7 linked regions of the Homo sapiens genome follow. The protein of the gene in region 7 purifies or fractionates together with the protein of the main gene of each other region. This does not show direct contact. Each region holds a gene or a part of one and is shown on either strand. Other genes may lie near its edges. The genes, in order: RCC1, BUD23, SRSF9, VWA8, SLX9, POP1 and FOXA1.

Region 1 (4,617 bases), on a different chromosome or scaffold from region 7:
GCATGTGAGTGCCATTCCTTGGGGGCATTTCTGCCACTGCAGCCCTCAGGCCTGCTGCTTCTGGAAGAACAAGTTTGACAAACATATTGTGGTCTGGTTCCGGTCAAGCAAAATTCTGGTACCAGTTCCTCATACCATGCACCTGATGTCACCCAGCATGCGCCCTATTTTAAGGGTACAGCCGTGGTCAATGGAGAGTTCAAAGACCTAAGCCTTGATGACTTTGAGGGGAAATATTTGGTGCTTTTCTTCTATCCTTTGGATTTCTTTCTTTTTTTTTTTTTTTCCGAGACGGAGTCTTGCTGTGTCACCCAGGCTGGAGTGCAGTGGCACGATCTCGGCTCACTGCAACCTCCCCCTCCTGGGTTCAAGCCAATTCTCCTGCCTCAGCCTCCTGAGTACCTGGAATTACAGGCGCCTGCCACGACGCCTGGCTAATTTTTGTATTTTTAGTAGAGATGGGATTTCACCATGTTGGTGAGGCTGGTCTTGAACTCCTGAACTCAGGTGATCCACCCACCTCAGCCTCCCAAAGTGCTGGGATTACAGGTGTGAGCCACCGCGCCCAGCCCTATCCTTTGGATTTCACCTTTGTGTGTCCTACAGAAATTGTTGCTTCTAGTGACAAAGCTAAGGAATTTCACGATGTGAACTTTGAAGTTGTTGCAGTCTCAGTGGATTCCCACTTTAGCCGTCTTGCCTGGATAAATACACCAAGAAAGAATGGTGCTTTGGGCCACATAAACATCGCACCCTTGTCAGATTTAACTAAGCGAATTTCTCGAGACTTCGGTGTGCTGTTAGAAGGTCCTGGTCTTGCACTAAGAGGTCTCTTCATAATTGACCCCAATGGAGTCATCAAGTACTTGTTTTTGTTTGTTTGTTTGTTTGTTTTTTTGAGACAGCATCTCACTCTCTGTTGCCCAGGCTCAAGTGCAGTGGCACAATCACGGCTCATTGCAGGTTTGACCTCTTGAGCTCAGGTGATCCTCCCACCTCAGCCTCTAGAATAGCTGGGACTACAAGTGCGCATCACAGTGTCCAGCTAATTTTTATATATTTTGTAGAGACAGGGTTTTGCCAAGTTGCCCAGGCTGGTCTAGAACTCCTGGGCTCAAGCGATCTACCCGCCTCAGCCTCCCAAAGTGCTGGGATTACAACAGCTGTGAGCCACCATGCCCGGCCGGAGCCACAGTCTTTAAGGTCATGAAAAACAATCAAGTTGTCTAAGCCTCTACCTAATGTTACGAAGGGAAGGAGAACTCCAAGAGCCCTTCTCGGTCTCAGCTCTGGGCCTAACCAGCAGCCCCCTCATTCCTTCCTTCTAGTGGTTCCCGAGAACCTCGCCTCTCTAGCTCTCCCCTCCATGGTATATGGACACAAGGCCAGGCACTTTTCTGCTGATTATCCTGGGGAAGGAGAACTAAATACTAAAGATGGGAAAGTAACCAAAGGTCTAGAATCCTGATAAGCCTTTGCAGGCTGAGCTTCTGCAGGTTGTCACTGGCCCAGTTCTGACTGATGAGGTGGCAGTTCTGAACTTCACCCAACTTTTATTCTCCCAGGGCTGAGAATCCTCCCACCTGTCTTTTGAGACCCCTTGTCCCACACTAAAAAGTGCACATTCTTTGGGATTAGAGGGAACTGGGTTCACCTTCCAGAGCTTGTGGCTGGCCAGTTGCCTTAACCTCTCTGAACTGTATCCTCATCTATAAAAGGGGATGCAATGACTACTTCTCAGGGCTGTCATCAAGACTGAATGAAATGGTTGTAAATCCACAAATATTTATAGTGCTTTACTACTAAGGGAGGAGACCACCCCTCATATTGTCTTATGCCCAATTTCTGCCTCCAAAGAAGTAAAAACTAAAAGGCAGAAATGAAATCCACAGGCAGACAGCCTGGCGCCGCGACCTGTGTCTGGTTAAAGATCGACCCCTGACCTAACCGGTTATGTTATCTATAGATTCCAGACATCGTATGGAAAAGCACTGTGAAAATCCCTGTCCTGTTCTGTTCCGTTCTGATAACCAGTGCATGCAGCCCCCAGTCACATATCCCCTGCTTGCTCAATCAATCACGACCTCTTCATGCAGACCCCCTTAGAGTTGTAAGCCCTTAAAAGGGACAGGAACTGCTCACTCGGGGAGCTCAGTTTTTGGAGACGTGAATCTTGCCAAAGCTCCCAGCTGAATAAAGCCCTTCCTTCTTTAACTGGGTGTCTGGGGGGTTTTGTCTGCGGCTTATCCTGCTACACTACTGCTTGGCTTTGGGTGAGGAGGTGTAGCAAGGATAAAGGAGACTAACCCTTTTTTACTCTCATAATTTGTTCATCCTTTGTATTTATTTTTGAGACAGGGTCCTGCCCAGACTTGAGTGCAGTGGCATGGTCATGGCTCACTGCAGCCTCAACCACCCGGGCTTGAGCCATCCTGGATAGCTGGGACTACAGGTGTGCACCACCACGCCCGGCTAATTTTTGTATATTTTGCAGAAACAACGTCTTGCCATGTTGCCCAGGCTGGTCCCGAACTCCTGGGCTCAAGCGATTCTCTAGCCTTGGACTCCCAAAGTGCTGGGATTATAGGTGTAAGCCACCATGCCTGGCCTTTTATTTTATTTTTTTAAGAGAGGGGGTCTCACTCTGTCACCTAGGCTGGAGTGCAGTGGTGCAATTAGCTTATTGCAGCCTCGAACTCATGGACTCAAGCGATCTTCCCACCTCAGCTTCCCAAGAGCCTGGGATCATGGGCACGTGCCACAGCACTTGGCTTGATTTGTTCATCCTAAAAAAGTCCAGAGGATTCTTGGCAGGCCTGCCCAAGATCCCCCTATGAGCTTGGCCAAACACAAAGACTCCCAGGCTTGGGCTTAAATGACCAGGTAGATGGTAGACTTCCATGTAGTGAGATAGAGAACACTGTTGAACAAACAGGAGAGAAGAGACGTGAAGCTCCATGTTGCTAGGTGTTTTCATTCAATCTGAAGTGCTTGGGAGCCATCCCAGAAAGGATGTCAGGCAGGCAAAGTTAGATGGGGTAGGGATGTGGGATATAAGAGGCATCTTTGTGGCCGGGCACGGTGGCTCACGCCTGTAATCCCAGCAGATTGGGAGGCCAAGGCGGGTGGATCACCTGAGGTCAGGAGTTCGAGACCAGCCTGACCAACGTGGAGGAACCCCATCTCTACTAAAAATACAAAATTAGCCAGGCGTGGTGACGCGTGCTGTAATCCCAGCTACTCGGGAGGCTGAGGCAGGAGAATCGCTTGAACCCAGGAAGTGGAGGTTGTGGTAAGCCGAGTTTGCACCATTGCACTCCAGCCTGGGCAACAAGAGTGAAACTCTGTCCCTCCACCAAAAAAAGAGGCACCCTTGTTTTAGATAGACAGCTGTATGCCAAGGCAAACATCTCATCAGTTCATCAGAATAATCTGTAGCAGTCTGCTGTGCCTGGGAGGGAGACTGTATTAGCATGAAAAGTACTCACAATAAGAAGTCAGGAGAAAAAGCAGGAAACAATTATGTCAGCACAGTTGGTGCTGATGGCTGGGCTGCCATGAGCACAGCCCGGAATGGAGTCAGACACATAAGGGCTATATGAAGTGTTGGTGTCATGGGGCATTAACCAAAAAATCTGTTATCATGGATGGAACAAACCCAGTCAACATCTCCTTAGTTGTGTTTGGCTAATATTCTGGAGCGTTTCACTACAAGCTGGCCACAATGATCCCACTCTACAGAGAAGAAAACTGAGGCTCAGAAAGGTGAAGTATCTCACTCAAGATTGGAAGAGAAGGCCAAGATCTGAACCAAGTTAGTCAGACTCCAGAGCTGGCGTCCTTGAGTGTTATTAGAAATTTCTTCTGGCCGGGCGCGGTGGCTCACGCCTGTAATCCCAGCACTTTGGGAGGCCGAGGCGGGCGGATCATGAGGTCAGGAGATCGAGACCACGGTGAAACCCCGTCTCTACTAAAAATACAAAAAATTAGACAGGCGTGGTGGCGGGCGCTTGTAGTCCTAGCTACTCGGGAGGCTGAGGCAGGAAAATGGCGTGAACCCGGGAGGCAGAGCTTGCAGTGAGTCGAGATCACGCCACTGCACTCCAGCCTGGGTGACAGAGCAAGACTCCGTCTCAAAAAAAAAAAAAAAAAAAAAAGAAATTTCTTCTGCCTCCTTCCTCCCCATGCTCCCTAGTAGTCTCTCAGCTTGCCTGGAACTGTGTCTCCTCCTCCTTTCCCTAGGAAAGACAGCAACTTTTCACTGGTCTTCCGGTCCCCACCCTCATCCCCTCCTCTCATTCTCCAAGTCATTCGTGATCAATAAATATGTGTGTGTGTATATATATACATATATATATTTATTTTTTTTTGAGACAGGGTTTCACTCTGTTGCCCAGGCTGTAGTGCAGCAGCACGTACACGGCTCACTGCAACCTCCACCTCCTAGGCTCAAGCGACCCTCCTGCCTCAGCCTCCAGAGTAGCTGGGACTACAGGCATGTACCACCACGCTTGGCTAATTTGTAATTTTTTTTTTTCTTGTAGAGACAAGGTCTCACTATGTTGCCCAGGCTGGTCTCAAACTCCCGGGCTCAAGTGATCCTCCCACCTCGACCTC
Region 2 (4,617 bases), on a different chromosome or scaffold from region 7:
GACATCCAGGACCCCAAACCCCTAGCCCCAAACAGGCACAGTCCAAATGGGACCTGATGTTTCTACCGTCACCTTGGTGTCCCTGCTGCATGTGACCTGAGAGGCTTGGGTGAGGGCAGAGAGAAAGTCCATGTCTAACAAATGTGGCAGCCCCCGCTGCAGCCGGGGCAGGCTTCAGCAGTTGCTTTACCTCTCATTGGTGAACACAGACTCCCTGGGTTCAACTTCATCCTGATTTTCACTCAGCCCCTGCAGGAACCAAAGTGCACTCAGGTCACCCTGGAGAGTTCTCAAACCATCTGCCCCACTCCAGAAGCCCAGGCACCCAGGCCTGACCCTTCCGACAGGGACGAGGTCCAGTCCCACGAGAAGGAACTGACACGCCTTTCTGGGACCTGCAGAGCAGAGGTCTCTGCCTCCAGATTCCAGAGGATGTGAGCACTCCAGGGTCTGCACTCTGGGGCTGGGCCCTGCTTCCCCACCAGTGTTCTCCCAGCAGGCTCTGCAGGCTGAGCCCCACTGCCTGGAAGTCAAAAGACACAGGCCTGCCTGCAAACCCAGTGTCCCTCACCTCTGGTATAAAGGTCGAAGGCCCAGAAAACAAGCAGAGGTAGAATCTGAAAGGAGAAAGTGCAAAGTGAGGGTTGGGTGGAGAAAGCCCCACAGGGAGACAAGCCCTCAGCTCCCCCACCCGCACCCCCTCCGCCTGCCTGGACCCTGGTGACCCACACCCCAGCACTCCTCTGCACCACTGAGTGGCCTGAAAGGGCTATGCCACTACCCTCCCTCCTGCAGCCCAGGCAGCACACCGGCCCCCAGCGCTCACTTCTTTGCTTTGGCACTGTTAGGGTAGTCTACCACCATGCCACCGGAGAAGCCTGCCTTTGTGGCCTGGGTTGTGATCAGCTCCAACTGAGGAAAGAAAGGCAGCGGGTCAGGCAGCGGAGGTTGAGAGGAGCAGACAGCTTCACCTCCCTCCCCTCCTTCAGAAGCCAGTCTGCTCCAGGACAAATCCTGCCTGGGAGAACTTAAGGTCGCTGTAAGCCACGTAGAGAAAAGTACAGGCTAGAATCTGGCATGGCCCACACCTCCCTCAGGAGAATTACAGAACAAAGCAACTCCCCTCATTCTCACTTTCCAGTGCAGGGACCCAGCTCCCCACTCAAGTTTAGGGAGATGGCCACCAATTGGAATCCAGAGTCATTCATGTTATTAGTCAGGAACAGCTCTTCACTTATCTTTCAACATCTACATCCTACTCCGCCATTCCTTAATTTATACATCACACAACGGAGAACTGTCGGTGCCCTCTCACCCTTCCTAAATGGCATTTACTTATTTGGTTATGGAAATCAGTCGCATCACCTTATCTGTAATACCATGTCATCTGCCAAGAGAAGGCATCCCACCCCACCTCCGCAGATGCCACCCCCTTAGGATATCAGGTCATCAAATGTGCCATCAGGGGCCACACTAGGGTGCATGTTTCCTCCTTTTCCCGCCAATCTGCATAAGATTCTTTGTCGCTTCCCCAGGACAGCTTACCTGTTGAGTCCCCCAACTCCCCGGCACACCCAGTAGCCGAGGGACTCACCTGCTCTGAGTTCTCAGGGTACAGCTGCAGGACAGCTCGGGATCCCCGGACCTGAAAGAAACAGGAACATCACTGTCTTACAAATGACTGCATGAGCTTAGGGCCTGGACACCCCTCTCTTCCTTCATTCACCAAGTATTTCCTGAATTTCCATTATGTGTGAGGCATTGTTAGGGCTGGGGATAGTATGAACAAAAGAGATCACCCTGAACTTTGGAGCTCACATTTTAGTAAAGGAGGCAACTAATTCACAGTAGCAAATTTTTTCTTTGTTACAAAAAGAGGAATTAGACAAAGTGACAGAGTTTCCTTTCAGTTCAGTTTACTTTTGGTTCCAAAAAGGCCTGTTTCAAATGGATACTTGAGCAGAGATTTGAATGGAGTGAGGAGCTGGCTATTTAAACATATAAGGGAGGAGCCTTCCAGCAGGGAGAAGAGGAAACACAAAGGACCTCAGAACTAAAATATTAACCCAGTGTGCCAGGAGGAGAACTCATGTGACACACAAGACCAGCGGCCAGATAGGCAGGCGCAGTCCACCCCAGGAAAGGCCAGCGGCCACATCAGCAGGGGCAGTTCACCCCAGGAAAGACCAGCGGCCACATCAGCAGGGGCAGTTCACCCCAAGAAAGACCAGTGGCCAGATCGGCAGGTGCAGTCCACCCCAGGAAAACTAGGGGTGGGCTAGACCAGGCTAAGGAGGCAAAAACCACTCAGATCCTTCAAAACGGACTCATTTTTAAGCTGGGCACAGTGGCTTACGCCTATAATCCCATCACTTTGGGAGCCTGATGCCAGACAATTGCTTGAAGCCAGGAGTTTAACACCAGCCTGGGCAACATAGGTAGACCCCATCTCTTAAAAAAAAAAAAGTAAAAAATTAGCCTGGCATGGTGGTGTGTGCCTGTAGTCCAAACTACTTGAGAAGCTGAAGCAGGAGGATCACTTGAGCCCAGGAGTTCGAGGGCGCAGTGAGCTACGATCACACCATTGCACTCCATCCCAGGCAACAAAGCAAAAGTCTGTCTCAAAAAACAAAATTTAAAAAGAACTCATTTTTAGGACTTAAAATCTCAGACTATCAGCTAATCCTAGTGAACAACTGAAATTAACATCATTAATTTGAAGACAAAGCTAATAAAGGCTCTCTTTGCAGTAAATAACTATCCTGTTCCTCATCCGAAGAAAAGGATCAGCACTAGGAGGAGGGATAAGTGAGGAGTCAGAAGGATGTGGGCACTTTGGAAGGTACCCCTCTGGATGGTCCGGACACGACATCTCTGTCCTCACTCTGCTCAGTCCATGCCCCCAAACCAACTTCTGATTAAAACTCAGCGCAATAGACATAGGAATACCAATCAACAGAAGTAGGCCCTATTACAAGTTAATAAATTGGTCTCCGATTTTGGTATCAGTGACTTCTGGGTTTGATTAGAGTATATCAGTCCACTGAGCTTGAACTTCCATTTAGGCTGAGGACCTGGACAGAAGTAACCACAGTAAGGTCCTGCCACCCCATGCGGTCCCATATGAGTAGCTTACCCATCATGGGACACCTCAATTTCCTCACTCTACCTGCAGTGCTAGGGAGGGACAGGCAGCTAACCCAGATGGGGAGAAGATCTTATACTCACGAGAACAGAAAAAAGAGAAGCAAAAAAGCAGTACAGGCGCTTGGCAGGGTTTTCAGACTTCTTGTTAGCATTACAGAGCCACTGCACAGCAGAAATGCTAAAAAGGAAGGGACCTAGTCAGGCAACGGAGCAATCCACGTTGCTCCCCCAACCACTTCAAGCCTCTTGACATCATCCGTCCTGGCTCTCCAAGAGAAACCCCTCCTCCCACAGCTTCCCTTCTTAGAAAGTGCAGGTTGAGGCCACGTACAGTGGTTCAACGCCCTGTAATCCCAGCACTTTCTGAGGCCAAGACAGAATTGCCTGAGGCCAGGACTTCAAACCAGCCTGGACAACATAGCAAGACCCCATCTTTACTTAAAGTATTTTTAAATTTAAAAATTTAAAGACAAAAAAAGTGCAGGTCCACTGCAGGTCATGACTCTACAACACTGGAAAAATAGGACATACAGAAGGACAGCATTTATGTCCCATAGTCCCAAGAAACCTTTCCTCCACCTTGTTTCCATCTGCATCTTGAGTTGAAAAGTCCTCCGTGTCAAGGCTGTCTGCCCACACACCCCTCCTTGTTCCCTTCCTCCAATCCAAGGAAACAGGCTTTAGACTACTCACATACACACAGCCATCCCATCACCCTTCCTCCTAAATCACTCCCTTCCACTCTACCTGTTAAGTGTCTTTACAACCCCCAGATTTAAAACCTCAAGCAGCCAGGTGCATTGGCTCATACCCGTAATCCCAGCATTTTGGGAGGCTGAGATGGGTGGATCACTTGAGGTCAGGAGTTCGAGACCAGCCTGACCAACACGGTGAAACCCCGTCTCTACTAAAAATACAAAAATTAGCTGGGCTTGGTGGCATGTGCCTTGAATACCAGCTGCTCAGGTGGCTGAGGCAGAAGAATCACTTGAACCTGGGAGGCAGAGGTTGCAGTAAGCCTTGTGCCACTGTACTCCAGCCTGGACAACAGAGCAAGACTCCATCTCAAAAAATAAATAAATAAAACCTCAACCAGTCACTATGTCTTCCTTCCTGCCCTTCCCCTCCGCCCTGCTGTACACACACAGAGCCCTACCTCCACCCCACTGGCTTGTCCCACAGCCTCTCCCAACTTTCACTTCCCCGCACCAATGCTCAGTGCTACCAGCTCAAATGCTTCCACCTAACTCTCTCTCCTCTTTCACCAGAAAATCACCTTCCTTAAACACACATCTGATCCCGTCACCTGCCAACTCCCCATCATCTACTCCATCAAGCCCAAACTTCTTAGGACACACTTAAGTGCCTTCTAGGAAGCAACCACACTCAACCCCATCTTCCGTGGAATCTCTCGTTCATCCCTCTCATCTCAGACCCCTTTCCCACCGGCATCTGTGCCTCTGCCCACTG
Region 3 (3,905 bases), on a different chromosome or scaffold from region 7:
GGGCCCAGGAGTTCAAGGTCAGCCTCGGCAATATAATGAGACTGTCTCTAAAATCAAAAATTAGAGAAATATAAAAATTATAAAATTAAAAAAGAAAATGTCATGATAGCTCAGGTTTCAGAGAGGATGCTGCACTACTCTGGGAAAAAAGTGAAGTGACAGCTCAGCCCTGACAGCAGGACCTAGAAGGGCTGAGATGAAGAGGCTGACCTGTAGAGCTCAGCCTGGACCCACAGGAGGGGTAGTTGAGTTCACAGAGGGATACTGCCATTTAAGCTGGTTGTGAATGGGGTGGTATGAAGACCGACTGCACTAGTATTCTCTCCAGGTTACAAATACCATGACCAAACTGTGTAATGTGATACTAATATGCAGAATAAAGCATATTAAAAAACAAACGTACCATGAATGCATACTTCTTTCAGCTATGACCCTGAAGGACTTAGGCATAGCAAATTCCATGGCTTTGTCCACCTAAGATAGATCTCTTATGGTACTGTGAGGTTACCAAATGGCATGGCCTCTTGCTACCTCTGCTAGGTCAGGTTCAAGTGGAGTGATTTGAGTACAAGCTCCTCAACAGAAGGCAAGGACCCACCTCATGAGAGCGGAATTTGGTGTCATCCAGTTTACGCAGGGCATATTCCATGTCTTCTTTTCTGAGATACTCGACCATCCCCACTCCATCCTTCTGCACATCAGCATAACAGACATCCCCAGCTTCTCGCATGTGATCCTTCAGGTCCTGCCAGCTGCCTGACGGAGGAAGTCCTAGGCATGGAGAACATAAGAAAGCCCACATCCTTCAGCTATGTTAACTGCCCTGTTAAGAGCCAGCAATACCTATGGTCCTTTCTCCATGATCACTTAAATCCTGAGGGTCCCCAAATCATAAACCTTGATAAGGGACATGAAATCAGAAAAGAGCACTGAAGTATGTGTGGTAAATGAACCACCTTGAGAAGCTGGTTTTAAGTTCATCTTCCAGAGACCAGGCCTTTTCAACAGAGCAAGAAGTCCATCCCATTACAGGTTTAGTATCTTTGAGAATTCATAGCCTCTTTCTTTGTCCTTTAAAATCAATGCCAAACTCCTAATACTTTGAGTTCCAATTTTTTCCATTATGAAATTTAACAGTACCAATTATTTATTGCTTGACAGGGTTTCACAGGACATGGGAATTTTGAAACCAGACATGAAATAACCAAAGAGTAGCTGAAGGTAACAACACAACAACAAAAAATCTAAAGTTTGTTTTCTTGTAGGTATGAATGACAAACTATACAGAGTACCTCTTAAAAGATCACCAACATTCTTCAATACAGTGGGGGGGAAGGTAAGACTCAGATGCTAAAACTAGTCGGGAGTCATACAACCCTACCTGATGTCATGAAAGGGAAATGTGCTCCTGCTCTCAAAGGCTGTGTTTACCGCTCACAGCTCAGGACTGCAGCCATTTCCTAATAGTTTTCTAAGCAGGATTTCAGAGCAGCATGGAGAGAAAAAAAGATAATGTATGACATCCTGAAGGAGGGAATAGAGTTCTGGGGTTAAAAAATTACAAAGGGACACAAGATAGGCAGATACTGAGAGTATCACTCTTAAGCACATGGGAGTATGCTGTGATTGTGTGACATTCACATCTTAAAAAGGTGCCAGGCTCCTCGATTTATTTCATTCCACCAGGGCCCTAAAACTCCCATGCAATATGCAGAAGGCCCCAGGTCTTTCCAGTGTGTTAATATTTTGAAGATAGATAAACCTCCCAGTTTAGCATTTCATCACTTATAAACACTAGACAGAAATAGTCTATACTTTCCAATAAAATCTCTAAGACTCTTAAGTTACGGGGTTTTAAAAAATATTTAATTCTAAAACCACCACAAAATCTGATCTTCTTCAGGATCCAAGGCTGGGTAAGTTGTTCAAATCTGGCTCCTTGAATGCCTTTCTACCATGTCTGATGCCAAGTATATTCCAAAAGAAGCATCTTTAGAATTGTAGCTCAAGTTTTCCCATCATCTTTCCTTCTCACCACTAGAAAACTCCTTTACAAGAAATATGGTTATGTTCTTCCAAGGCTGCACTCCCAGCGCAATTTCATTTGCAGGATACTTTCCTCATTGGCAATCCAGGGCAAGGCTTCACACAGGCTATTGAAAAGAAAGCCCCCGTGTCCCATGCACTGAAGAATAACAGCTATCATTTCTTGGAAGACAGACTCTGTGTTAAGTATTTTACATGTATCATCTCATTCTGTTTGAAAGGAACATACCTGAAACAAGAACTCGGAAATCAGATCTTCTTGTAGGAGGCCCATTCCTCCCACCACGGGGCCACCCACCCCGACCTCCATAAGTCCTGGGGAACTCCACACGAAGCCGACACTGGCCATAATCATAACCATTTCTTCCATAAATAGCATCCTCTGCATCTCTAAAAAAAACAACAACAACAAAAAAAACGTTTGGAGTTAGTGCTGTTCAGGAGGCCAAGTGACTTTCCAAGTGAGGGGCATGAGTAGTAAGCATAAAAGGGAAACCTAGAGTGAAGAAAAAAACACACAAATCAGGATCCTGAAGCACTTCTGCTTTGGTTTGGAGACGTTTCATGATACTGGAATTAACCTTTACAGCTGTCACACGCAGTTTTAGAGGTATGAAATTATAATGAATGAGCAAACAGATTACTCATAAGAGGGCTAATTCAGAGAAAAAAAAGAATCAACTGCTGACAGATTATTGATTTTGCCAATAAACCATCAGTGTTTTTCTAATCTTCGTGAGCATTTTCTCGAAAAGCACACCACACACTAACCCCTTAATATTTTTCTACAAAGCCTAGTGCCATAAAGTCTATGGAAATAAAAAGTAGGCGGTTAGCCAGGCATGGTGTTGCACGCCTGTAGTCCCAGCTACTTGAGAGGCTGAGATGGGAGTGCAGAGCCAAGATCACACTACTGTACTCCAGCCTGGGTGACAGAGACCCTGTCCCAAAAAACAGGAAAAAAAAAGTAGCCAGTTAGATAGGAGAGTATTTGAGGGTAAATAAAGTAGCTGGGCATGATGTTTGAGCCCAGGTCAGGCCAGCCTGGGTAATATAGTGAGACCCGGTCTTTTAAAAAAATAAATAAATAAGGCTCAAAGGACAAAAGAAAAATGCAAATGAGTGTTTTGTGATGAATGTGGAACTTTTTTTTTTTTTGAAACGGGGTCTTGCTCTGTCACCAAGGCTGAGTGCAGTGGCTGGAGCATAACTCACAGCAGCTTCTAACTCTTGGGCGCAAGCAATCCTCCCACCTCAGCCTCCTGAATAGCTAGGGCCACAGGCGTGTACCACTGCACCCAGCTAATTTTTGGATTTTTTGTAGAGACAGGTCTCCCTCTGCTGGCCAGCCTGGTCTTGAACTCCTGGGCTCAGGCGATCCTTCCCCTCAGTCTCCCAAAGTGCTAGGATTACAGGCATAAGCCACTGCGCCTGGCCTTGGAACTCTAAGTGTACCTTTTCAGCATGGTTTGGAGAACTATTTTTGTCAAAAAACATTCTTTGGATACAATTTTGCCAAAAGAGATAAATATTCAATAAAATTACTTTAAGTCTTTCCTAGGACTCTAGGAGAGTCAGGAATGCCACGTTGATTCTCCAGTATTGGATGGTAGAAAGTGTGACCTTGGAGCTTGGGTGGACAAGAGGAGCTGAATGTGCTAATGAAGGCATTGTTCAGTGTCACAGGCACATAATCACTTGTAAGATTTTAGAACTAAAAGCAACAATGACCATATCCAGTGCAACCTTGACTACGTAAAATGCAGACTGGGAGAGGCAGAACTGCTAGGAGGTCAGAACAACTCTGAATAAAAACTGGCCAGCATTCAGGCCAGGCGCTGTGGCACATGCCTGTAATC
Region 4 (4,617 bases), on a different chromosome or scaffold from region 7:
TCAGTCATTTAATCCATACCAATGTCCCAACTCTGACCTCTATACAACCTTTTTTTTTTTTTCAGTTAAGGGTACTCTTCAAACACCATATACAACTAATTCTTTAAATGTCTATTTTGGCTCAGATCTCTCTCCTGAGTTTCATACCTGCCAGTAGCCTACTGGAGACTTTACCTAGATATTCCAGAGACAACTCAACAAACACACAGAAACAGAATTCTATATTGTCCATTGTGTGCGCCTAACCACCTCTAACCAGCTCCACCTCTTGTATTCCTATCTCAGTGACTAACACTTTATCTCCTCAGCCTAGAAGACCTTCCACATCTCTCTCACACCACTTGCCCTCTACACAACTACTACTGAAATATCTTCATCTCCCCATTGAACCTTCCCTAACTTTTCCTCTAGCACAAATTGATCACTCCATTAGTCTTTCTGCTAGCACAGGATCTGATTTATGCTTCTGTAATGGAAATACAAATTCAAGGAGATAAGAGACATTTTCTAACAATTAAAGAAGAGCTTTTTATCTACTTCCAAAATAGAGATAGGATATTCTATTTCCACTTAAAAGATACACTCAGAATTTGTACTAAATTACTAGAATATTCTGTTTCCACTTAAAAGATACACTCAGAATTTGTAATATTTTTTCTTTTAAATGCCAATATTTACAACATACTGGAAATGTCATCGTTTGCAACTATTTAAACTTACCAGGAAAACTTTAGCTATTAACCTAAAAATGTTCAAAGGGATACATATTTTTAAAATCCTCCTAGCAGATAAATAAGAAAAATTTTTGAAGACTACTGTTTAGTCTACAGGACTCTTTTTTTCTTGGTGCAAGGCCTAAGTTTTAATCATCATTTTATCCCCAATACCTGAAACCTACCAGATATTCAATAAATGTTTGACAAATGAATAATTATAATTTTAAATTTTTTCTTAAGTATTGTTTTTAAGCTGTAATGTTTTCTCCTTTGAAAACATCCCACCTACTAATGTGCTTATAAGTCAAGCCATCTATAATGATTTAAGTGAGGTAGTTTACTCTCTAAAGGGGAATAAGAATACTTATAAGACAACAGGTAACATAATTTAGGCAAAAGAAGCAAATGTATGCCTTTCTTCATGTAAACTGTGGGTTTACTTGAACTAGACTCAAATACTATTGAAGTGTCTAAAGTGCCTGAACCTTGCTGGATTTCTGATTGGTTCAGTTCACAGGGGCTCCTGTTAAGAAGTACACTACAGTCTTTATTATTATCCTGAGATTCTTCATGATAGCCCTTCTGGTGCACCATATCCTCTCAAGTCTTAAATGTTTGTATGCAGCCATTCATTGAGCATTCAATGGTCTCACTTTGACCAGAACAGCAAGAACATAAAGAATTATTCAACTGATATGACATCATGGCTTTTAAATTCCATAATGAGACCAAGTAAGTCCATTAAGTTGGTGACAGAGAGTGGCAACAATGCCCAAAGTTTCAGTGAATCTGTCAAAATTGAGAAGCTAACCAAAGGGGCAAATTGTTAAATTCAACCAAATTTGGTCTAAGGATGCCTCCGTACTTGGAGTCCTTATGTAATGAATTGCAACATAACTTTGTATGTAAATTAACTGAAACCGGAACTTAGGAGTATACTTTGGTAACAAATAGATGAGTCTTAGCCAATCTGAGCAGCTGAGCTTGGGTCAACCACAGGCTGCCAACTGATGAGACCGTGTTCAAGTAAGGCAAACACTGAGTTATAGCCAAGTAAGCTGTTTCCGTACCTGACTTCCATTTTCTGTCCATAAATGCTGCCTGCTCACGTTTCAGAATGGAGCTCTCTGAGCTTATTCTGGTTCTGAGGACTGCCCAATTCACAAATTGTTCTGTGCTTAAATTCTGTTAAGTTTAGTGAGTCTAAAGTTTCTAACAGTAGCTTTGACAAAGAAGTTGGTTTCATGAGGGTTTTTCAACAGCGGCCCTATGAACATTTTGGGCCAGATAATTTTTTGTTGTGAGGGGCTGTCCTGTGTGTCATGGACTGTTTAGCAGCATCACTGGCCTCTACCCGCTAGATGCCAGTAGCACCCCTCCCTCCTGGTTCTGATAACCAAAAAGAAACATCTCCAGACATTGCTAAATGTCCCCTGAGGGGGAGAAATCACCTTGGGTTGAGAACTACTGGGTTAGTGTCATCATTTTTATATATACTAAACTTAGACCCAAGAGAAAACTAAATATATCAGCAATTCCCACACTAGTCTATGTGCCCCTAATGCAGATCTGCCTAATGATTTATAAGCTTACCATTGTTCTGAGCCTTTCTGTTAAATTCTTGAATACACAATGGGGTCAGAATATCCTCAGGGTCAAAATAACCTGCTGCAGGTTTAAAGTAGTTAATAATTTCCCCAAGGTTCAATACCTGATAAATACAAAACTTAGACCAAAACCACAGTATAGTTCTTTCCTCTTTACACTGTATTTCTCAGTTGAAGCCACAGTTCTATATTTCCCCTCCTCAAAGTTATTTCTATCTAATCCTATTGTAGCCCAAGGATATAATCTTAAAATAACAAAAATTCATGTAGATGGATGTTTATTGCATTGTTTATATATTTTAGACAACATGAATGTGCAAGAATGAGACAGTAAAATAAATTATATGGACAAACATATAAACTTAATAACTACTTTAAACAATCATGTACAATGATATTTATTACCATGTTAATATGTTCACAATAATGGATGTAATAATTATAAAACATACATGATCCCATTTCTTTAAAAAAATGTATCTGTATAAATATACATATCATCCAGGCACAGTGGCTCAAATCTGTAATCCCAGCACTTTGGGAGGCAAAGATGGGCAGATCACTTTAAGTCAGGAGTTCGAGACCAGCCTGGCCAACATGGTGAAACCCCATCTCTACCAAAAATACAAAAATTAGCTGGGGTGGCTCATATGGTTTGCCTGTGTCCGACCCAAATCTTGTCTTGAATTCTAGCTCCCATAATCCCCATGTGTCATGGGAGGGACCCAGTGGGAGGTAATTGAATCATGGGGGCAGGTTTTTCCTGTGCTGTTCTCGTGGTAGTGAAAAAGTCTCACGAGGTCTGATGGTTCTATAAAGGGGAGTTTCTGTACACAAGCTCTCTTACTTGCCGCTATGTAAGACGTGACTTTTCTCCTCCTTCGCCTTCCACAATGATTGTGAGGCCTACCCAGCCATGCGAAACTATTGAGTCCATGAAACCTCTTTTTCTTCATAAATTACCCAGTCTCTGGCATGTCCTTATAGCAGTGTGAGAACAGATTAATACAGTGGTGCACACCTGTAGTCCCAGCTACTTGGGAGGCTGAAGCAGGAGAATCGCTTGAACCCAGGAGGTGGAGGTTGCAGTAAGCCAAGACTGCTCCACTGCACTCCAGCCTGGGTGCCACAGCAAGACTCCATCTCAAAAATAAATAAATAAATAATTATACATATATATGTAATCTGATAGGATTAATGCTAAAAAGTTGATAATTATAAATTTGGGTGGGAGGATCATGTTTTAGGGAATCTGTACTTATCACTCTTCTATAATAAACATAGATTGCTGTGTAAAAGTATTTTAGGGTATTTCTATAAACAAATTTACTTCATATACAAGAGTCATAAAGAAAAAACTGTGAATCCCTTTAATAATAATGGCGTTAAAGGAAAGCACCAAAATGTCATGATATATTTATACAGTTATGTTTCTAGGTTTATCATTTGATCTATAGTATATTTGAATCCATTTAACATCAGAGTCCCACTGAAACAACTTGCTTGGCTCCATCTGTAAAAACACTACAATAATCTTTATTGAAAACTCTCTGCAGTAGATATCCTTGTTAACCTCTTTGCTCTTAAAACCAAGAGACAGTAATTTTAATGGAAGTATAAAGAGATATAAAGAATTTACAATTATAGATACTTATACTATCTGACAGCACAGGATAAAAAGCAGTGGGTTTGGGTTGAGTTTATCTGCTTGTTTTGTTTTTAACATAAATGACCTATTTTCCTTCTGCTTATCAGGCTTAACAAAGGTCCTCTCTTGAGAGCAAACGACAATTCCAGCCTCTCCTGCTCCTTCTCTGTATGAACTTTCACAAAATAAGCCACTGAATGCTTACTAGGTACAAAGTGTTGGCAGGCACCAAACGAATATATAGATAAACAAAACAAATACTCCAGGAGAAATAACAGCAGTATATAACTTAAATATATTATTTATGAACTTTGTTGTTCTTTTTTCAAACTATTAGGAAGCAATGTCAATTACAGAGAGAGGAGATAATCAGTTACTGGTCACATGTATGAATGCAGCTGAGAGCATCATCCCAACATAAGATGTAATCCATTATGGCCTATTGCTATTTGTAGTTTTACACTTGTCCATGTATGATCTCTGATTCAAAATGGGACACTTCCATCTTGATAGCCTTACTCTCAGGCCTCAGAGTAGCCAAAAGTGTGCTGTCCATTTACCTGGCTCACAACTGCTCTTACTCAAGTCCAGATCTCTGGTGGGTTCCCAGCTGCATTCAGTTACAGTTCTCACACCCTCAAAAAAT
Region 5 (4,339 bases), on a different chromosome or scaffold from region 7:
TGCAGTGAGCCTTGATCACACCTCTGCACTCCAGCCTGGGCCACAGAGCAAGGAACTGTCTCTAAAAAATAAAAATAAAAACTTTTTAAAAAACTAAAAAAGACAGTTTACTATACTATCTATACTTCACCTAGACCCTACAAAGTGTCTAGAGTAAAAATGGATTAGAGAACATGAGATGGAAGACAGATAGATTAGAGAGATCCAGTAAGTGCATAATTGGTGCCCCTGAAGAAGGGCCGAGACAATAAAGAAATCTTTGGAGCTACCATTCGACACCAGCTTCCCAACATAACTGTACTCACAAAACAGACAGCAGCTTCTAAGCATAATCGAACTCACAAAACAGACTTCAGACTCTCAACTGGAAAGGCACAATGGGCCTCGGTAGAACTGACACAAAACGCTCCCACTGATAAACACCTGAGTAAAGCCATTTCAAACCACAGGAAAAATCATCCCAGCAGCTAACTAAAACCATCTTACAAGGGCGTAAAATGTGGCTCTCTCAGTGGAAACTGGAGCTGAGTCTGCAAAGAGGCAAGAGAGCGTGCGTGGTCTGGAGATTTTTGTACCCAAGAGGACAACTGAGTACAAATTTCTGCAAATCAGTGTCCTAGCCCTGCTAACTGGGGGCCGCAGTGCCCAGTCACAGAACCAAACGTATCATCCAGATTTCAACCAGCCAGCGGAGGGGAGGGGCGGAGATGGGGCTGCGTCCACCCATCATTTTAGATCCATGACTCCCCTTGGAAGCCTTCCTGGGAGGCGGGACTTGACCCAGGGCCACAGGACCTGACTGCACTGAAAAGCCCCCCTGGAGCAGACAGGCAGGAGCCAGCGGAGCAGCGTGGAGGGGACTAGAGGCACGGGCGGGGCTCTCAGCCGCTGAACCCCTGGGAGGGCAGGCTGGAGGCACTCAGGACCCCTGGAGAGGGCGGGGTGGGGGCACACAGGAGCTGAACCCCTGGAGAGGGTGGGCGGGGCGAGGGCACATAGGAGCTGAACCCCTGGAGAGGGTGGGCGGGGTGAGGGCACTCAGGAGCTGAATCCCTGGAGAGGGTGGGCGGGGCGAGGGCACATAGGAGCTGAACCCCTGGAGAGGGTGGGCGGGGTGAGGGCACTCAGGAGCTGAATCCCTGGAGAGGGTGGGCGGGGTGAGGGCACTCAGGAGCTGAACCCCTGGAGAGGGTGGGCGGGGTGAGGGCACATAGGAGCTGAACCCCTGGAGAGGGTGGGCGGGGTGAGGGCACTCAGGAGCTGAACCCCTGGAGAGGGTGGGCGGGGTGAGGGCACATAGGAGCTGAACCCCTGGAGAGGGTGGGCAGGGTGAGGGCACTCAGGAGCTGAACCCCTGAGGAGGTGGGCAGGTGCACTCACAGAAGCTGCTGTCTCTGGGCTGCGCTCATCCGGCTGAGCTCTGAGGGCCGGGGCTTGTTGCTCTCCCTGCTGTGGACACAGAGAAGCCACGTGAGTCAGCATCCAGCATCCCCTAAACACCTTCCCGTGGGCAGAGGCTGGCTCCTCCCTTCTTAGAGCAGACGTCGTGGTGGCCAGAGGTGACCAAACCACTGCAGAACCACAAGTTCCAAGCTGCACTGTGGCCATGGAGGCGAGACCTGGACAAGCAGTGCAACTGCCTGACCGTCCTGTGACCGCCCCGGACAAGCAGTGCAACTGCCTGACCGTCCTGTGACCGCGGGCCCCAAGCTGCTCCGTGTGGAATCTGGTGACTCCTGCAGCTCCTCCTGGCTCCATGGGACATGGAGGGAGTGGTCAGCCAGGAACACGTCTCACGATATACAGCGTCTCCACCCCACCTGCCTGGCCAGGGCAGGCTGCGCAGACACCTCACACTTCGGGCCAAAGGACCCTGGCAGGCACAGCCAGTCCCACTCCCGCAGTACACACCACTTCCCAGGAAGGCTGAGTCACCCACCCAAGCCTACATGTCCCCAGGTCCTCTCTTTAGAAGAAGGCGCACGCTGTGCTACAGTGGGAAGCTGCACCTGCCCTCCTGATGACTGAACTTGGGGACAGGGGCGTGGACCCACCGTAGATCCTGCCCTGCCTGCACCTGCGGGGGGTGCCAACGAGCACTGCAGTCCCCCATGGACAGGTGGAGGAACTGAGGAGGTTTCCTGAGTGCTGCTGGCTATTTCCTTTAGTCCTGGGATCTCCAAACCACCAAGCTGGGCCTTGACTAAGGGCACGGGCGGGCCAGGACACTCTCATCTCTGACGTCCACCCCAGGCAGGCTCCGGCTGCCCGCGGAGCTTCTCACCCTCAGTTAACCGTGGGAATCTTCGGGAGCTCGCCTGCACTCCTTGTGGTCAGCCGGCCAAGGCAGCCGCCCACCTGGCCGAATGTTCACATGGGACAGCGACCTGGGCCTTAAAAGGAACAGAGAACCCGCAAGGCCACACCAGGCGCCTTCTCAGATCTGCCGTCCACACAGTGAGATGGGACCCAGACGACGGCGGGAAGGCAGAGACGCAGAGTCCTCAGACCAGCCCTACACTTAGCCTCGGGCCAGGAGACTTCATCTTTTATTCATGGATCTCTTAAAATATGAATGACAGACATTTTGTGTCTGCCCAAAATAGCCCTCAGCACCCGCTTTCTTTTAACCCTAGCTCTGCGCTGATCTGGGGAAGGAATCAGTCCCCATCCCTTCCTGCTCACACTGGCAGATGACAGCCCCTCGCATCTCCCGTCCCCTCTGCCCGCTCAAAGCCACAGCTCCATTCATTGCAGGGGCTCTGCCGGGGCTGACGACATCTCCCCACGGCCTCTCCTGGGCCAGCCTTGCCCCGATGCAGAAGCTCTGCCCCCCTGGCCAGCCGACCCCCTCCCTGTGTCCACCCCTGAGCAGCAGCTCCCTCACTGACTGCCCAGAGCTGTCCCCGGTCCCCATCCTTGCAGAAGCCATCAGCGTGGGGCCCCTCCTCTAGGTGCACCCTGGTGCCAGGGCTCTGGGCAGCCACGTGCTGGGTCAGGAGACCTGAGCCCGGGTCCAGGACATCCTTCCTGGTTGGGGAAACCTCGGGCCCTGGAGCTGCACCCTCACTTTAAGAGATGAACTAGCAGTGGGGGTGGGACCAATGCCTCCCAAGGTCCCAAAGCAGAGGAGCTGCACCCAGGGTGGCTGCAGTGCCCATGAGGCCAGGCGCGGCACCTCCCCTCCCCACTGCGGGGACCGTCCCCCACCCACGCGTCCCACACCCCATCCTCCCAGGCGGGACGCACAGCCTACCCAGTGGGGTTTCCGGAGTTCAGGGCCCCGGGGACAGAGTGCTGGGCGGTTACCGTCATGGGCCAAGGGCAAGCACCGGCAGGGACGCGACTCCACGAGGCCTAACAGCAGGAAGCCGAGGAGGAATTGGAGCCTAACTCCGCCCAGTGTGGACCCTCACCAGCCCCCACGGCACTCCCTCCAGGCAGGAGCAGCGGCGTCACCACCACTCCCCTCCCGACAATCACCCACAAAGCGCACACAGGAGGCGGAGGTCCACAGCATGGGGGGTCCCCTCCCGACAACTGCCCACAAAGCGCACACAGGAGGTGGAGGTCCAGAGCATGGGGGTCACCGGAGTCAAGTGTCGCTCGATGCCTGCTTCCCAGCCAGGAGTGACGTGGACCCCAAACACGGGCCCTGCCCTGGCCTCTGAGATTCCAGCTCTGCATCCTGCACCCCAGGGGCATGAGGCCCTCAGGGCAGGGCGCCAGGACAGGGGATTGAGGGAGCTGGGTTGGGAGGGGACTGAGGGGACTGAGGGTTGGGAGGGGCCGTGGGGCAAGGACCCAATGCTTGGGTTCCACAAGGACAGCTCTGCCAGCCCAAGCCATATGTTCTCCCCACTAGGTGGGAAGGGGAGAAGTGAGAGACAGAGCTCCAGGCTGGGAGGGAGAGGCTGTCCACCCTCCAGCCTCCCAGGCCACTGGTGCTCGCCTGCTGACCCCTCAAGCCCAAAGCACATCAGAGTCCAAGAGTGGTGGTCAGTGGGGCAGACCTGCCTGCCGGGACCAAGATGCAGTTCCCAGAGACACGGCCCGCCGCCCAGGCACGCCAAACCCCAGATCCTGGGACAGGCGCACCGAGCCCCAGATCTCAGGGTCTCACACCTCCTGCAATACAGGGGCCAGGGCTCCCTAGAGAAACAGCAGGACTGGCAGGAGATGTCCAAGATGCGCCTGGGTTACCTGTTGGTGCTCGGCAGTGGGAAAGAGCTAAAAATACGACCCCCACGTCAATGGGGCCAAAGGGAGCTGGGGGCAACTGCAAGAACTCCCAGCGGCCAATGCTGGAACAGTTTCGGCACCAAAATCAAGTAACGCT
Region 6 (4,617 bases), on a different chromosome or scaffold from region 7:
TTTTACGTTGCACCAGACCACATTCGTAGTAAAAAAGAAAAGAAAAGAAAGAGGCAATGACTCATTGAGTAAAGTCTTAGGCTTCATAATTAACTAACTTACCTATATATCTTCAAACTCCTCTCTCATCCAATCCACCTTTTATGTGAAGTTCTGACAGAGTAATTTATTGCCCCATCAATAAGCTATCTAACTACATTAAAAAAAAAATTCTGGGCCAGGCGTGGTGGTTCATGCCTGTAATCCCAGCACTTTGGGAGGCTGAAGTGGGTGGATCACCTGAGGTCAGGAGTTTGAGATCAGCCTGGCCAACATGGTGAAACCCCATCTCTACCAAAAATACAAAAAAAAAAAAAAAAAAATTAGCCAGGCGTTGTGGTGGATGCCTGTAATTTCAGCTACTCAGGAGGCTGAGGCAGGCAAATCACTTGAACCCAGGAGGTGGAGGTTGCAGTGATGACGCCATCCATTGCACTCCAGCCTGGGTGACAAAAGCGAGATTCCATCTCAAAAAAAAAAAAATTCTGAAGTCGTTACAACACAAACCTTTACTTTATCTCCAAAGACTCACATGGTAATTTTAATTATTCTTCCAATTAATCATGTTTAAATGACAGTAAATACAATGAGACATTATCAAAATTGCTGCCAATCTCATATCAGAACAAAATTTTAGCCAGCCCCTTACCCACCTCCTGTGCCACCCCAGCCAAACAACTTTCTCAGGCCTCTAGTACTACTTAGTCTAAACCAAGACATCTTATACTTCAGCACCTGGGATGGCCTTGCCAGGATTCGAACCTGGATCATCTGTATGGTCAGACAGAGGCTTCCACTGAGCACAAGACCAGCTTCGGGTGCAGATCCCTTCCTCACAATTAAAATTCTGAAACGCCAGACATTTTCAGAGAACGTAGTTTGCAGAGAGACAGGTTTTACTAGATACTAAAAAAAGAGAACTCGGAAAATAAAATGAACATAAGTATCAGGCTACGTGTTTTACTGCTAAAAGACACTTCCACACCTACCATTTCCTTAGATCATAATCAGCTTGTAAAGTGGGCAGGTAAGGAGACTGCCCTAATTTTTTACAGATGAAGTTACTGGAGAGGTGTCAGAGAAAGAACTCTTCTTCTAATAAGACTGGACTGCTCGAAATAGTAAGGAAAACCTGGGGTGTTTTTGGAACTTTACCTTGGCATTTTTCTGGATTGGGCAAAGCTTTGGACTTCTTTTGGGGCAAATTTATTCGAGGATCCCCAACTGTCAGTCCCAGAATAGTACCTGCCGGAATTTCTGCTGGTGATGTTATTCCTTTAACAACAACAAAAAGAAGTTTACAGAAAGTCATTCATAATACATCTGTATTTGCTTGTATTTTTAAATCTTTCAGATTTCCTAATGAAACGTTTTTCTTGGACTAATTACTTAAAAACATGTATTCCCTCTCTTCCCATTGATACTTTTAGAGAATAAGTTAACATTCATAAAGAATGAGGTTTCTTGCAAAAAACATGAGGCCAACATAAAAAAAGGTTCTTTTATGAAATGAACACATATGCTTCTATCAGTGATAACTACAGCAGCTATGAGCAAAAATGCAGTTGTGTGCAGGTAAGCATAGAGTTTAGGTCAGTACCTGGTGTATGCATTTATCTCCACTATCAGAATGCCAGTTACTTAGAATATGAACATACCATTTGTTTGTTGTTTCATAACCAGGCATGAATATAGTGTTTATTCACTGAGTTCAGTCCCTCTCTTACTTGGTTCTCTTGCTGTGTCACAATAGCAGCAGGTTAAAAAGCAATACTACATGTTGGAGGCCCAACTGCAAAAGGCTCTTTTGGCCCCCTTCCCTCCCCAACACAACCCAGTCTTCCCTTTGTATACCTCCCAACAACTCGAAAATGGCTTCTTGTCTGCAATGAAGGGAAACGCTGTCAGGTTTCTTACAGGTTTCTATCCACCAGCGGTGAGGTGTCTCCTCTGTGTCCTCTCCCACCTGAAAAATAACAACTACTATTCACTGGACGAACAATGAATCCACCTTCATAATTTTGTCATGGTTGTGATATCAGCCCCCACTCTTTCTTCTTCTATGTGTGGAAATGTATGTGTTATGGGATGAACCAGGGAAGTTGCCACTATACTTAACATAGTAATTAATACCAGACTAACTACCCTTTGAATTAGCAGCAAGGATATAGTATTACACTTCTCTCAAGATTTCACATATGAAGAAAATCATCTATGGTTTTCATAGACTAACTCACTAAGATACTTCACACTCAAAGTCTCTCCAGAGCGCAGTACCAACAAAGGAGGCCTCGCTCCTCTCTCTTTTTTTTCTTGACACAGTCTCACTGTCACTGAGGCTGGAGTGCAGTGGCCTGTCATGGCTCACTGCAGCCTCAATCTCCCAGGCTCAAGTGATCCTCCCACTTCAGCCTTTCAAGTGGCTGGGAGATGGAACCACAGTCACATGCCACCATGCCCAGCTAATTTTTTTTAACTTATTTTTTGTAGATATATGGTCTCACTATGGTGCCCAGGCTGGTCTTGAATTCCTGGGCTGAAGCAATCAACCCACCTCAGCCTCCCAAAGAGCTGGGATTTCAGGTGTGAGCCACACGCCTGGTCCTCTTCCACTAGAGCTAACTTCATCATCTCCAATGTAAGCAATAAAATGTTCCTCACCAAAGGAAAATCAAACCAGTACCTTTTGAAGAACTTTCCAGATAAAAGATATACTACTACTACATTATTCCTAGAAATGTATATTTTTTCCACATGGAACTAGGAATTGAGGAAGATTTCAAAAAGTCCTTCAAGTATCACATGCATGGCAAGAAGGGAATCTATAGCCACAACTCATGCTGAAGTTCACTGAAGTAGGATGTGCACTTACGGATCCTAAAGAAGCAATCATGGCCGGGTGCAGTGGCTCATGCCTGTAATGCCAGCATTTTGGTAGGCCGAGGCAGGCGGGTCACTTGAGGCCAGGAGTTCGAGACCAGCCTGGCCAACATAGTGAAACCGCTACTAAAAATACAAAAAATATTAGCCGGGTGTGTTGGCTGGCACCTGTAATTCCAGCTACTCGGGAGGCTGAGGTATGAGAATTGCTTGAACCTGAGAGGTGGAGGTTGCAGTGAGCTGAGATTGTGCCACTGCACTCCAGCCTGGGTGACAGAGTGAGGCTCTGTCTCAAACAAAAAAAAAAAAAAAAAAAGCAATCATAACAAAGGTACCATTTACTCACAGAAACTCAGGTAGCACAGCTTAGTGGTTTACAGTACAGGCTCTGGAACCAAACTTCATTGGTTCAAATCTTTGCTCCACAACTTATTAGCTACTACGGGGCACCCTCTCTGTGCCAGACATTGTGCTAAGCACTGGGGAGAGAGTGAAAAACAGGACCAACTCTATCCTCACCCTTATGAAGCTCACAGTCTCATGAGAGACATGGACATTACATAAATACACAAATCTATATAAATAAATTGAGGGAATTTGCAAGATGCTCTCTCTGAAAACAACAGGAGGGATCTAGTTTAACTTGGGGGATCAGGAAAGGATGCTAGAGGGAAATGCTAGAGACTGAAATCTGAAGAATGAGGAAGGTTCAGCAAAGTAAAGAGTGGTGGAGGCAGAATGCTCAGTAGTTGGAAGGAAAAAACAGGTGCAAAGGCTCTAAGGGAGACAAGAACTGACATTCCAGAACCTGAAAGAAGGTCAGGGTGGCTGAAGTGTAGAAGGGTGAGGAGAAATGAGGCCTCAGAGGCAAGAAGGCACAAGATTACACGGGTCACATTGAGCACTTTGGATTTTATCTTAATTACAATGAGAAGCTATTCAAAAACTTTTCATCAGGAAGCAACAAGAGGGAATAAATTATCAAAAAATCACTCTGCCTCTTGTGTGGAGAATGGGCTGAAAAGGAGGAAGGATGGAGGAAACTTAAGGTTCCCTCTAGAATCCTTTCCTGATCCCCCAATTGTTCAGGCAAGAGACAACACTGGTTGAGAGTACAGCAGAAGCAGTGAAGATGGAGAAAAGTAGCTTTTGTATTTTAAAGCATCTTTCTTCTAAAAACTCAGAATCTGTTCAGCTCTATCATCGTATTTGACCACGTCAAGTCAGTGAGAGGCACAGGCATTGAAAAGTTAATTGCACTAAGACCAGAAAACGAACAGGATCTGAACCCAGGGTGCAGATTCCTAATCTAGTCTCTATGCTAGCCACTTGCCAATAGAGCTACTCAAATTTAATTTTTAGTTAATTAAAGTTAAGTAAAGGTATAAATTCAGTTCCTCAGTCACTCTAGCCACAATTCAAGTATTCAACTGCCACATGTGGCTAATGGCTGTCGTACTGGACAGCACAAAGGAACATCATCCTCACAGAAAGCTCTACTGGAAGTGCTGCCCTAGACATACTGCTCTTAACCTTTTTAGAGATTCTAGACCCCTAAAACTAGCCCCAGAAAACCAGCCAGGTGCGGTGACTCATGCCTGTAATCCCAGCATTTTGGGAGGCCAAGGTGGGCGGATCACCTGAGGTCAAGAGTTCCAGACCAGCCTGTCCAACATGGTGAAACCCTGTCTCTACTAG
Region 7 (4,315 bases):
GGGAAAATGCCCAAACAATGAAGAACTATCTGCACTTGTCACCTCGAGACGCTTGCTGTCCTGCTCTGTCCGCCTTCCCTGGCAACCAGCTGTCCTGGCCGCCAACCCGCGCGCGTCCTAACGCGCGGGTGGCAGGTCGCATCACCCAGAGGTGGCGGAGTGTGCGGTCTGAGAACTGCGAGAAGCCCACAAAGCAGGGGCTGGGCCTGCAGGCTCCCCGCGGTCCAGCTCCCGAGGCAGGTCTCCAAAGTGCCCCCGTCCCCCGCATAACTAGAAAATGTCTCCGGCAAGTAACAGAGCGAGAGCTAAGGCCAACTTAAGCTTGGTGGGGTGAAGGCAAGGCGCTGATGTTTCTAATACGTTGAAAAGGAGAAAGGGAACATCACAGAGAGGACAGCACAGAAGTTAAACATCTTAGATTCAGTGGGGGCGGGATTCCGAGGCCCAAGCCCACGCCTTTATATTACATTTGGAAGCTGAATTTGTTTACCTTATGTAAATAAGAGTAACTGTTGGGATTGGAAGCTTTTTCCTCTCTTTGGGACTTTGATGTCCTTCCGAGGTCTCCAAATTAGGGTTTGAAATTATTCAAACCAGTAATTTCCCTCCCCTCCTCCTTTCATTAACTGAAGTGAGTGGGGGTTTGGGATTTCTGGATTTTTTCAAGTGCTACATGGCACCCTTTCTCTCATCTGGGGAGGCAATTACGCGATAATTAAGCGACTCACACGGCTCTTTTTATCTTGTCCGCGGTGTGGAGTGGGGCGATCAAAGTAAAGGCTGTCCAAGTTCAAGCCCTGGTGAGGATGGAGTTCATACACAAGGGCTCAGGCAGGCAGGCCTCTGCTTGAGCTGGTGTTGTTATTGTTGATGTCAATCCGAACAAGACTTACAAAGAAATAGGTGGACTGGAAAGTGAGCCTGCTATCAAAGGAGATTAATGATTTTGTGATCCCAAGCAACTATGGAGTGTGAAGTTGCATTTAAAAGCTCCTTAGAAGGAAACAAATTATCAACTTTAAGTTCTTAGGAACGACATTTTTGAATCAAAATTTAAAACAATCTTCACAAAATGCAAAATAGCGGCTACCCTAAAATGTCCTGTCGGTACAACGCTTCCCCTGCGAGAGTGAATTAACTCCCCTCCTCCCACCTCCTCCAGAGCTACCCTGATGGCTAAGTTTCGTTTCTCTTTTAATGAGAAGAGAGTTCATGAGTCTCCGTTGGACACAACTTAATTCTATCAGCCACAGCTGATATTTTATTTTCATTGGAAGAATTCTCAGATAAAGAAAAGTGATACATTGGGGAAGGAGGAAAGGTAGTTAAATTAATATTTGATTTTGTAGTGAAAAGGCTCAAAGGAAACACAGAAGGCTTAAGCCGGTGTCAAAAAAAAAAAAAAAAATGAAGTAAACATCACTGGGAATAAAGAATCTTAAAAATCTCAACTCTTGGAATATTAAATCAACTTATACACTTTACTTGAATTTCTTTCACTCCTTTTTACTAGCTACACATTCATTATAACAACAGACAAAACAATTTTATTTTCATTTTTGTCATTTATATTCAGTTCTAGAATTTGAAAAATATCGTATTCAGAAATATTCACTTCGGATTTAGTTAAGTGAAAAAAAATAACAGAAATGCTCTTTTGTTAACATTTGATTTATTTAAAGTCCTTAACTGCAAATGATCAAGAACATTTTCCACGGCTTAAAATCTGGTATTATTTTTGTTATTTAAATCAAAATATTTTTAATTACAATCACATTGATAAAAATTAACAATTTAATTTGTAATTTTAACCATCATTTAAAGCAATTTCAGCTGTAAAGAAAAAGAATAAACCATGCAATAAATTAACATTGAGAAAGCAAAGAGAAATAATAATGAAACCCGTCTGGCTATACTAACACCATGTCCAACTGTGGAAAGTGCATAACACTGGATGAAACAAGCACACGATGGCAATGATTAAAATGGCCACTATCAATAGGATTTTTGAATCTTGGACCACGTTTTGAAATCCAGCTCCCTATAACTTATCTCTCCTCCAACATTGTAATATTCCCTTTTACTGAAAAAAAAATTCTTTAAATGGTATACACTCATAGAAACTAATTTTATGTGTTATGTGACCTCAGAATGACATGACCATGGCACTCTGCAAAGCAAGAAGCAGAGTTCTTGAGGGCAATTCCTGAGGAATTGATTCCCAGGGCCATCTGTGGGTAGAGAGGACAAAGGGGTTGGGGTCCTTGTAACTTTCGGTCAAGCAACTCTTGAGAATGTATCATGTATATCACCTATCTATTACCTCTATATGTTATGTAAATATACGGAGGATGTCTACACATCTGAGCATGTGCATAATTAAGTCCATACACAATATACATGTATTTCATTTAAAGACATCTGCTATCTGCATGTATCAGAAATGTAAACTGAGAAGCAAATGGCTCTGATGTTTATAATCTGTTTATGTCTTGCTATATAACAGCAGTATTGTCTTTCAATACTTTTAAGAGCCTCTAGTGTATACTTGTTTCTTCACCATTTCAATTCTTATGGTTAAGAGTATTGCCACAGACCTGTAAACTCGTAGGGGGTCAGGTAAGGAGGGGGAAAAAGCACAAACAAATATTTTACAAACTTGACCATCTTCCTTTTTTGTTTTTTTAAATAACCCTCCACAAACTAGAATGTCTGGAGGGGAAAGAGGGAAGAAAGAGAGGGGGGCAAGGAAGGAGGAGAATTTCATATATACACTTGTGGATCATTAAACTTCGCAGGAAAAAAATTGGTTTGGGGTTGTCTTTGTAGTAATATACACAATGAATTTTGAATACAATAATAAAGTAACAGTCTTTTGCACTGGGGGAAAGGTTGTGCATGAAAAATGAAATAAAAATAGTTGTTGGGATTTTATTATGCTGTTGACGGTTTGGTTTGTGTGGTTTTGTTTGCTGTTGATTTTTTCTCTCTTGCTACCAGCATGGCTATGCCAGACAAACCCCCCAGTCCCGGGAGCTAGGAAGTGTTTAGGACGGGTCTGGAATACACACCTTGGTAGTACGCCGGCTCCAGGGCTGAGGGCTCGATGGGGCTCCTGGTGGTCACCGAGGCGCTGCCTAGAGGCAGGCTGGCGGGCAACGTAGAGCCGTAAGGCGAGTATTGCAGTGCCTGTTCGTATGCCTTGAAGTCCAGCTTATGCTGCTGCTCCGAGGAGGACATGAGGTTGTTGATGGAGAACGGGTGGTTGAAGGAGTAGTGGGGGTCCCCTTTCAGGTGCAGCTGGGACTCGTGGGGTGCCAAGCCGTGTGCCGGGTGAGAGGCGGGCACAGAGGCCAGCGCCCCGGGCCCGGAGCTTATGGGGGGCGCAGTTGAGGAGGCTGGAGTCTTCAACTCCGAGGCGCCCCCTGTCGCCGTCGCCCCACTGTGGTCCAGAGTCTGGGGGCTGGCGGCGGGCCCGGGGGCCGGCGCGCCCTCTAGCTGGCCGGTCTTCCCGTGCACACCCCGATGGAGGGGCGAGTCGGCGCTGGGGTTAGAGGCGCCAGAGGGGTCCTTGCGGCTCTCAGGGCCGCCCTTGGCGCCGCTGCCCCCGCTTCCGCTCCCGCCCCCGCCGCCGGCCCCCGGCTGCTTCTCGCACTTGAAGCGCTTCTGGCGGCGCAAGTAGCAGCCGTTCTCGAACATGTTGCCGGAGTCCGGGTGCAGCGTCCAGTAGGAGCCCTTGCCCGGCTTGTCCGGGGAGCGTGCCACCTTGACGAAGCAGTCATTGAAGGACAGCGAGTGGCGGATGGAGTTCTGCCAGCGCTGCTGGTTCTGCCGGTAATAGGGGAAGAGGTCCATGATCCACTGGTAGATCTCGCTCAGCGTGAGCATCTTGCTGGGCGCCTGCTGGATGGCCATGGTGATGAGCGAGATGTACGAGTAGGGCGGCTTGGCGTGCGGGTAGCTGCGCTTGAACGTCTTGGCGTCGCCGCCGCCGCCCGCGCGGCTGCGGCCCAGGTTGGACGGCGCGTACGCCATGGGGCTCATGCACGGGTTCATGGCGGCCGCGTAGGGGCCCAGGCCATTCATGGAGGCCGCCTGCTGCGCACCCATGGCGCCCATGCCGCTCGGGCTCAGCGCCGTACCCATGGCCGTCACGCCGGCCGCAGTCATGCTGTTCATGGCGCCCGCCGAGCCCCCCGGCATGCCGGCTACTGCGCCGGGACTCAGGCCGGCCCCTAGGCCCGGGTTGGCATAGGACATGTTGAAGGACGCCGGGGTCATGTTGCCGCTCGTAGTCATGGTGTTCATGGTCATG

What was found.
Region 1: the proteins of FOXA1 (region 7) and RCC1 purify together in Homo sapiens (affinity purification with mass spectrometry; 2 studies listed by BioGRID and IntAct, with this or other methods). This does not show direct contact.
Region 2: the proteins of FOXA1 (region 7) and BUD23 purify together in Homo sapiens (affinity purification with mass spectrometry, with the first as the bait; 2 studies listed by BioGRID). This does not show direct contact.
Region 3: the proteins of FOXA1 (region 7) and SRSF9 purify together in Homo sapiens (affinity purification with mass spectrometry, with the first as the bait; 2 studies listed by BioGRID). This does not show direct contact.
Region 4: the proteins of FOXA1 (region 7) and VWA8 purify together in Homo sapiens (affinity purification with mass spectrometry, with the first as the bait; 2 studies listed by BioGRID). This does not show direct contact.
Region 5: the proteins of FOXA1 (region 7) and SLX9 purify together in Homo sapiens (affinity purification with mass spectrometry, with the first as the bait; 2 studies listed by BioGRID). This does not show direct contact.
Region 6: the proteins of FOXA1 (region 7) and POP1 purify together in Homo sapiens (affinity purification with mass spectrometry, with the first as the bait; one large-scale study listed by BioGRID). This does not show direct contact.

The regions. Positions count from the first base shown.
Region 1 is NC_000001.11:28,522,568-28,527,184, reverse strand, and holds part of RCC1 (regulator of chromosome condensation), read right to left. Parts: intron 828-4,617; exon of another isoform or gene 572-827; intron 252-571; exon of another isoform or gene 1-251. UniProt on the Homo sapiens protein: Guanine-nucleotide releasing factor that promotes the exchange of Ran-bound GDP by GTP, and thereby plays an important role in RAN-mediated functions in nuclear import and mitosis.
Region 2 is NC_000007.14:73,689,624-73,694,240, reverse strand, and holds part of BUD23 (18S rRNA (guanine-N(7))-methyltransferase), read right to left. Parts: intron 3,326-4,617; coding exon 3,229-3,325; intron 1,646-3,228; coding exon 1,595-1,645; intron 913-1,594; coding exon 827-912; intron 618-826; coding exon 572-617; intron 250-571; coding exon 191-249; intron 1-190.
Region 3 is NC_000012.12:120,463,352-120,467,256, forward strand, and holds part of SRSF9 (serine/arginine-rich splicing factor 9), read right to left. Parts: intron 2,437-3,905; coding exon 2,276-2,436; intron 772-2,275; coding exon 599-771; intron 399-598; exon of another isoform or gene 1-398. UniProt on the Homo sapiens protein: Plays a role in constitutive splicing and can modulate the selection of alternative splice sites. Represses the splicing of MAPT/Tau exon 10.
Region 4 is NC_000013.11:41,954,137-41,958,753, forward strand, and holds part of VWA8 (von Willebrand factor A domain-containing protein 8 isoform a precursor), read right to left. Parts: intron 1-4,617. UniProt on the Homo sapiens protein: Exhibits ATPase activity in vitro.
Region 5 is NC_000021.9:44,970,307-44,974,645, reverse strand, and holds part of SLX9 (ribosome biogenesis protein SLX9 homolog), read right to left. Parts: intron 1,450-4,339; coding exon 1,381-1,449; intron 1-1,380. UniProt on the Homo sapiens protein: May be involved in ribosome biogenesis.
Region 6 is NC_000008.11:98,137,466-98,142,082, reverse strand, and holds part of POP1 (ribonucleases P/MRP protein subunit POP1), read right to left. Parts: intron 2,006-4,617; coding exon 1,894-2,005; intron 1,315-1,893; coding exon 1,195-1,314; intron 887-1,194; coding exon of another isoform or gene 879-886; exon of another isoform or gene 818-878; intron 1-817. UniProt on the Homo sapiens protein: Component of ribonuclease P, a ribonucleoprotein complex that generates mature tRNA molecules by cleaving their 5'-ends. Also a component of the MRP ribonuclease complex, which cleaves pre-rRNA sequences.
Region 7 is NC_000014.9:37,588,329-37,592,643, forward strand, and holds the end of FOXA1 (hepatocyte nuclear factor 3-alpha), read right to left. Parts: coding exon 3,037-4,315; 3' UTR 1,224-3,036; downstream 1-1,223. UniProt on the Homo sapiens protein: Transcription factor that is involved in embryonic development, establishment of tissue-specific gene expression and regulation of gene expression in differentiated tissues.